Homo sapiens: one gene and its partners. The protein of the gene in region 2 purifies or fractionates together with the protein of the main gene of each other region. This does not show direct contact. Each region holds a gene or a part of one and is shown on either strand. Other genes may lie near its edges.

The links.
Region 1: the proteins of SYAP1 (region 2) and GPR107 purify together in Homo sapiens (affinity purification with mass spectrometry; one large-scale study listed by BioGRID and IntAct). This does not show direct contact.
Region 3: the proteins of SYAP1 (region 2) and HDAC11 purify together in Homo sapiens (co-immunoprecipitation; one large-scale study listed by IntAct). This does not show direct contact.

Annotation. Positions count from the first base shown.
Region 1 is NC_000009.12:130,133,811-130,137,339, reverse strand, and holds part of GPR107 (protein GPR107 isoform 3 precursor), read right to left. Parts: intron 2,316-3,529; coding exon 2,219-2,315; 3' UTR 1-2,218. UniProt on the Homo sapiens protein: Has been proposed to act as a receptor for neuronostatin, a peptide derived from the somatostatin/SST precursor.
Region 2 is NC_000023.11:16,750,559-16,754,208, forward strand, and holds part of SYAP1 (synapse-associated protein 1), read left to right. Parts: intron 1-3,650.
Region 3 is NC_000003.12:13,478,724-13,482,473, forward strand, and holds the start of HDAC11 (histone deacetylase 11), read left to right. Parts: upstream 1-1,582; 5' UTR 1,583-1,624; coding exon 1,625-1,626; exon of another isoform or gene 1,627-1,723; intron 1,724-2,522; coding exon 2,523-2,671; intron 2,672-3,750. UniProt on the Homo sapiens protein: Responsible for the deacetylation of lysine residues on the N-terminal part of the core histones (H2A, H2B, H3 and H4).

The DNA of each region.
Region 1 (3,529 bases), on a different chromosome or scaffold from region 2:
CCCAACGCTGGCGTTCCCGTGCCAGTCTGAGGGCTGCGGCTCCAGCGCTTGTCCACACACACGCCTGCCTCTCTCTAGTTCCTCCACTGCCTGGCTTCCTCGCTTGCAAAACCCAGCATGTGAAATGAGGACACCTCCACGGAGACCCTTCCGAGCAGGGAGGTTTCATCACACCTTTCGTTCTTGCCAAGGAGTCTATCGCCTCATCCACAACATCTGCTTGCGGGAGAAACAGCAAATGTGTCCCTCTGAGGGAAGGACTGAGGAGGGCTTTGGTAGTCACAGATTGAGACACATTTCTGCGAAAACTGGTATTATGTTTCTGCACAGGAAAACAAAGTGTTAAAAATATTCCCATCCTCCCTCCAACTCCCTTCTGTCACACAGTCCCAAGTGAACTTGAAAAAGGTCCAGAAGTGAACACTTAGGGTGCATTTACCTTTCTCCTGAAGATGGGAAGACACACGGATGCTTGCCTAAAATATCTGCCGAGAGGTGAGCAGCTGTGGCCTGGGAAGGCGCTTGCTCTTCCTCCACATCAGCCAGAAGGCAGATCACACCTTCAGAGCACCCTACAGAACCCAGATGGCGAATCAAAGTGCAGAAAAAGAACACCCGCTTCCTCATTAGTCATTTAGGAAGATAAGATAGCATGGGACAGGGAGAACAACCATGTTCTGAATGGAGACTTTTTCAGGTTCCCAAACTTGGGACAGTGAGTGTGACCCCACATCCTGTGGTTTCTGCCTGACCCTTCTAAGCCAGAGGTGAGAAAACAACTCCCAGAGACCACGACTCTCACCCTCGGAGGTACCTGTTCCCCTGCAGGTGTGGCTCTCTGACAACCCCTAGGCAGGGGTGGGCTCCAGCTTTTGGAAGCAACCCTACCTAGCTGGCCCCCCAAGCATTAAGAAGCTTCCCTGATGGGGCCATGTTTTGGTCTCCTTTTAAGCCCTCAGTCACAATGTACCTTCTGAGCTTGTCCTACTATTCAGATGATTTTCTCTCTGAGTTGCAATACTGCTCAATTTAGGTGGCTACCTGTGTTCATTCAAGCTCTGGAAGTGTGGAAGGGAACTTAATCATTGAGTTTCTGTGAAGTATTTTGCCATCCTAAAATCCCTGAGAGTGAAACTGTTGAATCATGCTCACTTTCTTCACATACATACTCTTGGACTATGGGGACCAAGTCTGTTGAATTCATCTATTTAGAAATCCTACTAGCCTACAGGAAAAGCTTTTTAATGGGGATGATTTGCTTGGACTTAAGTATTTGCTTAAATACTACCTATTCTGCCCCCAGCTGCTCCTTGAGGAAAACTTTCCATTTCCCCCAAAATTCTGATCAAACACAACAAAGCCACAAGCATGAAGGGAAGCCAGACAGTGCTGCTCTGGGCTGTCAGGGAGTGGATGTCCAGGCAACGCCACAGGATAATGCTTTTTGAACTTAAAAATACATTTCTTTCCATCCATCAGGCAACATCTCAGTCAGAAAACCACCTCCCACCACCTGTGCTGTGCCACAGGGCATGATCCTGACAGCGACATCACAGCCTTCTTTTCCTGTTGGAAAGAAGACCACTGGGCCTCAGGAGCTGCTGTCCTGGTCACTCTCAGCATCTGGAATAAGGGTCTGGGGCAAAGCCGAGGGCAGGAATCCTGGGGCAGGTGCTACATCCTAAACTGGGTTTTGACTTTGCTTTCCAAAGTCACCTGTTTTCGTTCATTTTTGTCTCCCAAACAGGCAATGGCACTCTCCCCGCCCTTCTTCTTAAGTCCCAGGGTCCTCAGTAGACATTTCCTAAAGCATCAGACAGACACCTCGCACCCTCCTTCCCCCTCCACCAGCCGTCCTTGCTACACTTCCCCACACATGGGGTCACAACTGCATACACCTTAGAGCTCCGAAATGAAGAAGAAAAAAAGAAACCTAAATTAAAAATGAATTCTTCCTTTTCTCTTCCTCTCCTCCTCCCTGTGCCCGCCCTCCCATTCCCGCCTGAAAGAGGATCCAGCTGCCTCTAAACAGCCACAGATCGTTTCCATAAAAGAGAGTACAAAATCAGGTTTCCGCGGCACTGTGCTCCAGCCATGTGCCCTGGTGTCACTGTCGGTGGTGCCAATAGTTCACTGTAGGAGCTGCTCCTGCTGTCCAATAGGACTATGAATAAGTTAACAGTTTCCTTGGACAGTGCCATCCTCAGGGTCGGCTCTGTCACACGGCGCCTTCCCACTCGCCCTGGGGCTCCACGGAGCCGTTGGTCACCTTCTTGACTTTCTTCATACTTTCCATCACCCCAGATGTTGTCACACTGAACAAGGAAAGAAAAAACAATTAGGAACATCTCACAGTCTCTTAGTAAAAGGCCATCTCTGCCACAGCACGGTGATTAGGACTGATGATGGGTGTTGGTTTTTGAAACAGACAAAATCTAAGTGTGATTCCTGGTTCGTTCCTTACTAGCTGTGTAACCTTGGCCAAGTCACTTGAACTCTCTGTGCTTAAGTAATTCTCACTTTCCAGAACTGTCATGAGGAAAAATGAGATTCTCCAGAGTGCCTAATCAATAAACACCAGCTATCGTTATCACAATCATCATGAATCTTTTTGTCACAGCTTGCGGAATTTTTGTGGCGCACAGATATGTGATAGTTACGCTTATGAGACTGAAATCTGACTCTTAATGGACATTCAGAAAAGAAAGCTAATTAGCCAACCAGACATTTTTAATAAGCAGCCACAATGGATCATTTCTGAGCCAGGGGACAGAACCACAGGTTTAGAGGAACCTTCCAGGATCAAAGATTCTTTGGCCACTATAGACAGAGAACTGGCTGCTTTCTGCTAGCTGGGGCTGGGCCATGTGGCTGTGCCTCAGCGCATGGCCTCTGCCTCCACTCTGTGAGCTCCCGGGGCTCTGTCTGTTGGTGCCTGGCTCTGAGGAGGCCCCATGGAGCCATTCGTTGAAATCAAGGATTAAAAATGGAAGATCGCTGGTCTCGCAGGGCATGAGGAGCTGAGCAAGGCAGCCCTTTCCATTAGAAGGAATCACATGCACGGGCCCCACCTTCTCAAGAGGATAATCTCTTGCCTCACAGAAGGTGAGCTGGTCTATGAGGGAACTGGGTGGCTCTGTGAGTAGCAGAACTAGGCAGAGATACTGGGTGTCAAAAGCCGCTTGGCCCAGCATCTTCCCTGCAAGCGAGGAAACAATGAGGATTTATGCTCCCCCATGGTGGACCAAAAGAAATTTCCTCATCAGTAAAATAAATTCAATCAATCAACTCAACAGGCTCTTTCCAAGGACCCAACCCATCCCTCTGCCAACTACCTAACCCCTTCCCCTACAAATGGCAACACAGTGGCCGTATATGTGACCCATCTAGAGTGCATGCAGCTGGACCTCATGGTAAGTAAATGTTTGTATGGGGTAAGGGAAGAAAACTTCCCCCTCTTCTTCATCTCTTCATTCTTGCCATTATGGTGCTACCATGCCCAGGCTCAAAGAATCCCCCAAGCCGGAAC
Region 2 (3,650 bases):
GCTGTGTCTGGCAGCAAATTCCATCTTGTTACCTGTCCTCGCTTGTATAGGTAATCGTGCATTTTGCCTCTATCACTTACATGCTAGCTTCCAGGCCTAGCTTCTCCATTCACAGGTGTGACAACTGTGCATTCTGATGCCTCATCTAAGATAAGCTCTGTCCAGATTCACAAGCCTGAGTCTCATTATTTTCTGCTAGTTCTCACTGATTTTTTTTTTTTTTTTTTGAGACAGAGTCTCACTCTGTCACCCAGGCTGGAGTGCGATGGCGCCATCTTGGCTCATTGCAACATCTGCCTCCCCAGTTCAAGCGATTCTCCTGCATTAGCCTCCCAGGTAGCTGCGATTACAGGTGTGCACCACCACGCCCGGCTAATTTTGTATTTTTAGTAGAGACGGGGTTTCACCATGTTGCCTAGGCTGGTCTCGAACTCCTGACCTCAGGTGATCCGCCCTCCTTAGCCTCCTAAAGTGCTGGAATTACAGGCATGAGCCACCGCACCTAGCACTGACTGATCGTATTCTACTCTTTCAAAGTCTTTTTCTGTCAGGCTTTCTTCTCGTTTTCCCCCCATTCTAAGAACCTTGCATCCCTTCTAAAAAAATGGGATAGACTGGGCATGGTGGCTCACGCCTGTAATCCCAGCACTTTGGGAGGCCGAGGCGGGCAGATCACGAGGTCAGGAGATCTAGACCATCCTGGCTAACACAGTGAAACCCCGTCTCTACTAAAAATACAAAAAATTAGCCAGGCACGGTAGCACGTGCCTGTAGTCCCAGCTACTCGGGAGGCTGAGGCAGGAGAATCGCTTGAACCCAGGAGATGGAGGTTGCAGTGAGCCAAGATCACGCTATTGCACACCAGCCTGGGTGACAGAGCGAGACTCTGTCTCAAAAAAAAAAAAAAAAGGGATAAAGAGGCATTCTCCCACCCTTTTGTCATTTCTACTTGCCAAAAAAAAAACAACAAAAAAAAATTAGAACATAAAATGAGCCACTCTTCCAGGCAAAAACAAACAAAAATAAAATTTCACACACCCTGCAGGTCACCAAAGCCATTCCTTGGGTGTGTACATGTTTGTGTGCATGTATATGTGCTTTTTTAATGCTTTTTTTCTTTTCTTTTTTTTTTTTTTTGATACGGAGTTTCGCTATTGTTGCCCAGGCTGGAGTGCAATGGTACAATCTTGGCTCACTGCAACCTCCGCCTCCTGGGTTCAAGCAATTCTCCTGCCTCAGCCTCCTGCGTAGCCGGGACTACAAGCATGCACTATACCCAGCTAATTTTTGTATTTTTCATAGAGACGGGGTTTCACCATGTTGGCCAGGCTGGTCTTGAACTCCTGACCTCAGGTGATCTGCCCACCTTGGCTTCCCAAAGTGCTGGGATTACAGGCATGAGCCACTGCACCCGGCCTTTTTTTTTTTTTTTTTTTTTTTTGAGACAAAGTCTTACTCTCGTCCAGGCTGGAGTGCAGTGGTGCGATCTTGGCTCACCGCAGCCTCCACATGCTGGGTTCAAGCGATTCTCCTGCCTCAGCCTCCCAAGTAGCTGGGACTACTGGCACATACCACCACATCGGCTAATTTTTGTATTTTTTGCAGAGATGCGATTTCACCATATTCCCCAGGCTGGTCTCAAACTCCTGACCTTGCATTCCTCCTGCCTTGGCCTCCCAAAGGCACTGGGACTACAGACGTAGGCCACCATGCCTGACCCATTTTGCTTTTATTTAGTTTTGTTTTTTGTATTCAACCCTCAAGATTTTTATTTAATTTCTCTGAAGCGAGCACAGTTATCAATGGATTATTATTATTATTATTATTATTATTATTATTATTATTATTTTGAAACACAAACTTATGGAAAAATTGGAGGTACAACATAAAGAACTTTTCTCCAAATCACTTGAGACCTAATGTTGCATCACTCCCAAATGCCGTAGTGTTTTACAAGCATTCTCCTACATGACCACAGTGTGCCCATCCAAATTAGGAAATGATCATTTACACGTTATTACCATCTCACTCTCAGACCCCATTGAGGTTTTTCCATTTGTCCCAATAATGTCCTTTTTAGCAAAAAAGCCCAGTTCACACTCACAGGTTACATTTGGTTTTCATGTCTCATCAATCTCCTTATGTCTGTTGCATGCTGTCAGGTGGCACATGCAGCCATTTGTCCCATTACTGTTCATACTTGGGTCATTTGATGCAGGTGGTGTTTGCCAGGTTTCTTGACTGTAAAGTTACTCTTTTCCTCTTTGAATGTAATTACTATTTTGCTGGGATGTGCTTTGAAACTGTGAATACTCTATTCATCAGACTTTCCATGTATTTATATTTGTACAGACTCATGCAATGGTCTGTAATTTTGATGCTCAAATTATTACCAATTTGAGGCCAGGCATGGTGGCTTACACCTGTAATCCCAGCACTTTGGGAGGCCTAGTTGGGAGGATCACTTGAGCCCAGGAGTTCAAGACTAGCCTGGGCAACATGGTGAAACCTCATCTCTACAAAAAATTAGCCAGGCATAGCTGGGCATGGTGGTGGGCGCCTGTGATCCCAGCTACTCAGGAGGCTGAGGCAGGAGAATTGCTTGAACCTGGGAGGCGGAAATTGCAGTGAGCCAAGATCGCGCCACTGCACTCCAACCTGGGTGACAAAAGTGAGACTCCGTCTCAAAAAAAAAAAAAAAAAAAATTAGCAAGGCATAGTGGCATGTGCCTGTAGTCTCAGCCACCCGGGAGGCTGAGGCAGAAGCATCACCTGGGCTGGTGAGATCAAGGCTACAGTGAGCCATGTTCACACCACTGCACTCCGGCCTGGATGACAGAGTGAGACTTTGTCTCAAAAAAAAATAATAATAATTACCAATTTGGCCAATGGGAGACTATTCAAGCTGACTTGTGTCTTTCTAACTCATCCCCATCATTTCTTCACACGTTTCCTTGCTTTCTGGCACAAGATAGTATTCTTCCTCTGCTCTAACCCTGGAATCAGCCATTTCCCCAGGGAGCTCTGGATCCTTTTAGTGGAAAGTCTAAATCTTGGTATTTTGCAAGATCTGGATGCTAGGTGTGCTCATTGCCATTGGGGTGCCACTGCTCTGCATGCTCTCAGTGGACACAGCCAGGGAATGTGTGTGTGCTCATTTCTGTGTGGAATGAAAACCATGTGTTCATGGTGCTACCTCATGACGGAGGTCATTTTCATTTTTTCCCTTTCCATGTTTGTAGCTCTCCTCTCTGATGGTGAGAAACCTGGTTTCTACTATCTTTAATATTTTTACTTATTCCCTGTGCATGTGGCTGATCTGTCATTTTTGCTGCCACTCACTCCTCTGCTCAAACACCCTTCTCTCCCTGCTTGGTTCTCACTCTCCGTTCCAGGCCACCCCCCTGTGTGGACACTTACCTCACCCACTTGGGCACCAACACATCACACCAGGTGATTCTAATAGGTAGCCAGGTTTGAGAACCACCAAGAGTTTTCAGGTTGAACTGCACTTCAATCTTTTTATCAAGCATTTCCCACCCCATTGCTAACTCTTACTGGTTACTAGTTATTAGCAAGCTGCCAAACATTCTCTTTCATAAGGAACAACAGCCACAATGCTTGCTTCTCACTGCTGGAAGGCATTTAAT
Region 3 (3,750 bases), on a different chromosome or scaffold from region 2:
ATAGTTTGCCTCCTAGGACTGTCAGAAGAGTTCGACAAGCAAAAAGCATTTGGACTTCAACTTAGCACATGACAGATGGTCTCTGAATAATAATCAACATTATTGTCTCTTGATTCCCTGGACTTGCCCATGAAATCCAGAGAATGAAGTGCAACCAGAACTTCATTTTCTTCCTTTTTTTTTTTTTTGAGATGGAGTCTCACTCTTGTCGCCCAGGCTGGATTGCAATGGCGCGGCCTCACCGCAACCTCCCCTCCCCGGTTCAAGCGATTCTCCTGCCCCAGCCTCCCGAGTAGCTGGGATTACAGGCGCCCTTCATCACGCCCAGCTAATTTTTTGTATTTTTAGTAGAGACGGGGTTTCACCATGTTGGTCAGGATGGTCTCGAACTCCTGACCTCAGGTGATTCACCCGCCTCGGCCTCCCAAAGTGCTGGGATTACAGGCGTGAGCCACCGCACCCGGCCCAGTACTTCATTTTCAGATGCAGACATGAAGGACCAGAAGGCTGAAGCAACCTGCCCAAAGCCACTATGCTGGCGGGTGGCCGAGTTTGGGTTTAATCCAGGCCCGAACCTCAGTTCCCTCAAGATAAAGTTGGGGTGATTATGGCACCTTTCTCAGGATTAGGTTGTGAGGCTCAGATGCCATCATGCAATCATGGCAGGCACACGGGGGCCCCTCTTCAAACGTCTGTGCGCTTCCCTTGTGCCCCGCCCTGGCACACAGCCGCCCCCGCGGAGCCCAGGGATCCCAGCCCGGCAGTCCTCCGTCAGCTGCTTCTGTTTGGATGGCGGGGACGGCTGGGCCGACAGAGAGGCCCATTGTCTCCGTCCTCTGGGGCTCTATTGTTGGGGCCTCCTCCTGGGTTGCAGCCCCACGGACAACCCCAGCTGTCGCTTGGGCCTGGCTCAGCTTACCCCGGCGGTGAGGGTGCGGGTCGGGGACGGAGACGCGTGCACCCTGAAGACAGTAACTAGGCCTGCTCTACAGAGGGAAACGCAGGCTCTGAGAGCCTACATGTCTTCGCCGGGAGTGCTTGTCCCGGAGCTGCTCGCAGACTGGGCCGGGGGTGGGCTCGGGTCGGAGAGGTCACGGGGCTCCTTAGGTCACAGGCGGCAGGGCCAGAGAAACTCCCCCGCCCCTACGTTTAACTCGCGGAAACAAGGGCCCAGAGAGCCCAGACGCCAGCCCAAGGTCACACAGCGAAGCCCCGGCACAGCCCGCCGGGAACCTGTCGTTTCTAACCCCCAGCCTCTCGCCGTTTCTACCCAGCTTGGGAAGCGCAGGAACAGGACATACGGTGGTCGCGCCCCTTCCGCGAGGCCGGGGTGAAACCCGCTTGGCCCTCCCGCCAGGGGGCGGAGCTTCCGAACCAGGCGGGATTCCACCGGGTATTTGCCTGCGGAGGCGGGACTTCGGGCTTGATGGGCGTTGGGGGTGGCCTTCCTGCGGGCAGGCTCTCTGTGTCGCAACACTGGCGGGGCGGGCCAAATCGGCCAGAGCTCTGCCCCCAGAGGACGCGGCTAAGCCCGGGGGCGTGTCCTGGGCTGGCCCCACCCGCGCCCCGCCCCGCCCCGCCCGGTCGCGGAGCTGCGGCCAGCTTTGGGAGGGCCGGCCCCGGGATGTGAGTGCCGCGGGGCGAGGGCGGGGGTGGGCTCCCAGGGGTCCCGGTGGGCGGGCGCGCTAGGGCGAGGGCGGGGACGGCCGGGCGGGCGCGCCAGGTAAGGGCCCAGATTTGCTGGTGAGGGGTGAGGGACGCTCGGGACGGGTGTTTCCAGGCCCTCCCGGCGCGCCAGGCCAGCCCCGCGCCCCTGCTCGGTGGCCCGAGGGACGCGCGCCGGCCGCGGGCCTGGGCCCGGACCCGGAGCGGTCGGGCGATGTGCGCGGGTCTGACGTCTGCGCTGCCCAGCCCCCTGGCTACGCGGACGCCCCCACGGAGGCAGCCACTGGGGCGGATTTCTGTCTCTGGGTGACGACTGCCAGGGTGTGATGGGAAGGGTTAGCAGCGCAGCGGGGTCAGGGGATCCCCGCCCCCCGCCCTGGCTCAGGTTGGGTCCCGACTTGGGTTTCTGAGTGCTTACTGTGCTCAGCTCCTCAGTTGCATTCTCTGAGTCCTCACAACAGCCACACATTTTGCAGCCGAAGCCTTGTGCCACACAGCTGTGGGGGCATTTATTACGGTGCAGAGGTGATGCGCGGAGGCCTTGCAGCCAGACACACCTGAGTGCACGCCTGCTTCTCCACAGACCTGCACTGTGACCTTGGGCACACCTGGTCTGCTCTCTGAGCCTCTGGTGCGATTGTGGTGCCTACCCCCAGGGCTGCTGTGAGGACTGGATTGGAATTGGGTTCCGGGAAAGGCAGCCAGTTTAAGCAGCTGTTGTTGAGGGGCCCTTGTCTGCGGCTGAGGGGCTAGTGGTGCTGGGCAATGGCTGGTGGGTCAGTCCAGGCGGGCTCGGGAGGGAGCTGCTTTCTGCCGAGGCTGCCCCAGCTGTGCGTCTGTCTTTTTCCACACGGTAGGCTACACACAACCCAGCTGTACCAGCATGTGCCAGAGACACGCTGGCCAATCGTGTACTCGCCGCGCTACAACATCACCTTCATGGGCCTGGAGAAGCTGCATCCCTTTGATGCCGGAAAATGGGGCAAAGTGATCAATTTCCTAAAAGGTATGGAAGGTCCCCCTTGGACTCTCATCTGCTTCCTCCAACCCACCTGTCCTCTCCGTCCTCATCCCCAACATAAGCCTCAGGCTCTCTCCCATCTTCAGTTTCAGCCCTCGGATGGCCTTCCACCCATGCTTCCGCCCAAAATGATTTTTCCAACACAGACTCCTAATCACGATATGATGTCCCTGACTCAGACTCTCCCTGGCTCCCCATCCTGTGGGCCTAAGTCCTGCCTCTGCCCAAGAGGCCTAGTGGAAAGGTAGCTGATTACTGATGGGCACAGGGAAGGTGAAGCTTGGAGGAGTCCATTTCCTAAGGTTCAGAGAGTCAGGAGGTAGAGCACCTCCACCGCACCTCTCTTGATTACAGATGGGGGAAATTGTGTCCTAGAATGATTAGGAAACATGTGCACCCAATTCCAGTCCAGTCCTCACAGCAGCCCTCGGGGTAGGCACCACAATCGCAGCAGAGGCTCAGGAGCTCACTGTAACCTCCGCCTTTCAGGTTCAAACAATTTTTCTGCCTCAGCCTCCCAAGTAGCTGGAATTACAGGCGTGAGCCACCACACCCGGCCCTGATTTCTTAATATGGCACTCATTATAAGATTGTAAAAGCCCACCTGTAGACCGAACTGGGCACACTGGCTGCCTGCTTGTGACCTCTTTCCAGGGAAGGACACAGCTCCCATTAGTGGCTGAAGTAACACAGTTACAAGAGGCGGAGTTGGGTTTGGAACTCAGAGCTCCAGGCGCCCTACCTTTAGGGCTCATCCCCTTGAGCAAAATGATGCTTCGAAGAGCATATCGTTTTAACTGTGGTTTGTAATCAAGGGGCCTGATTTAGGTGGGAAATTCACTTAAACTTGTTTTAAAAGGAAACATTATGTCATCAAAATGGGAAAAGGCAGTTTCACTTGCCATAAATAGGTCATGGTAAAAAAGTAAATGCAATGAAAACAACAGTATAATTCAATCCAGGCTGGTTACTATTGCCTGCAGGCTGTGAGACTGATTAGTGGTTTGAACGGAAGATGAGCAAAGCACAGGCAGGTGTTGCGAGGCCATGCCACACTGAGCCTC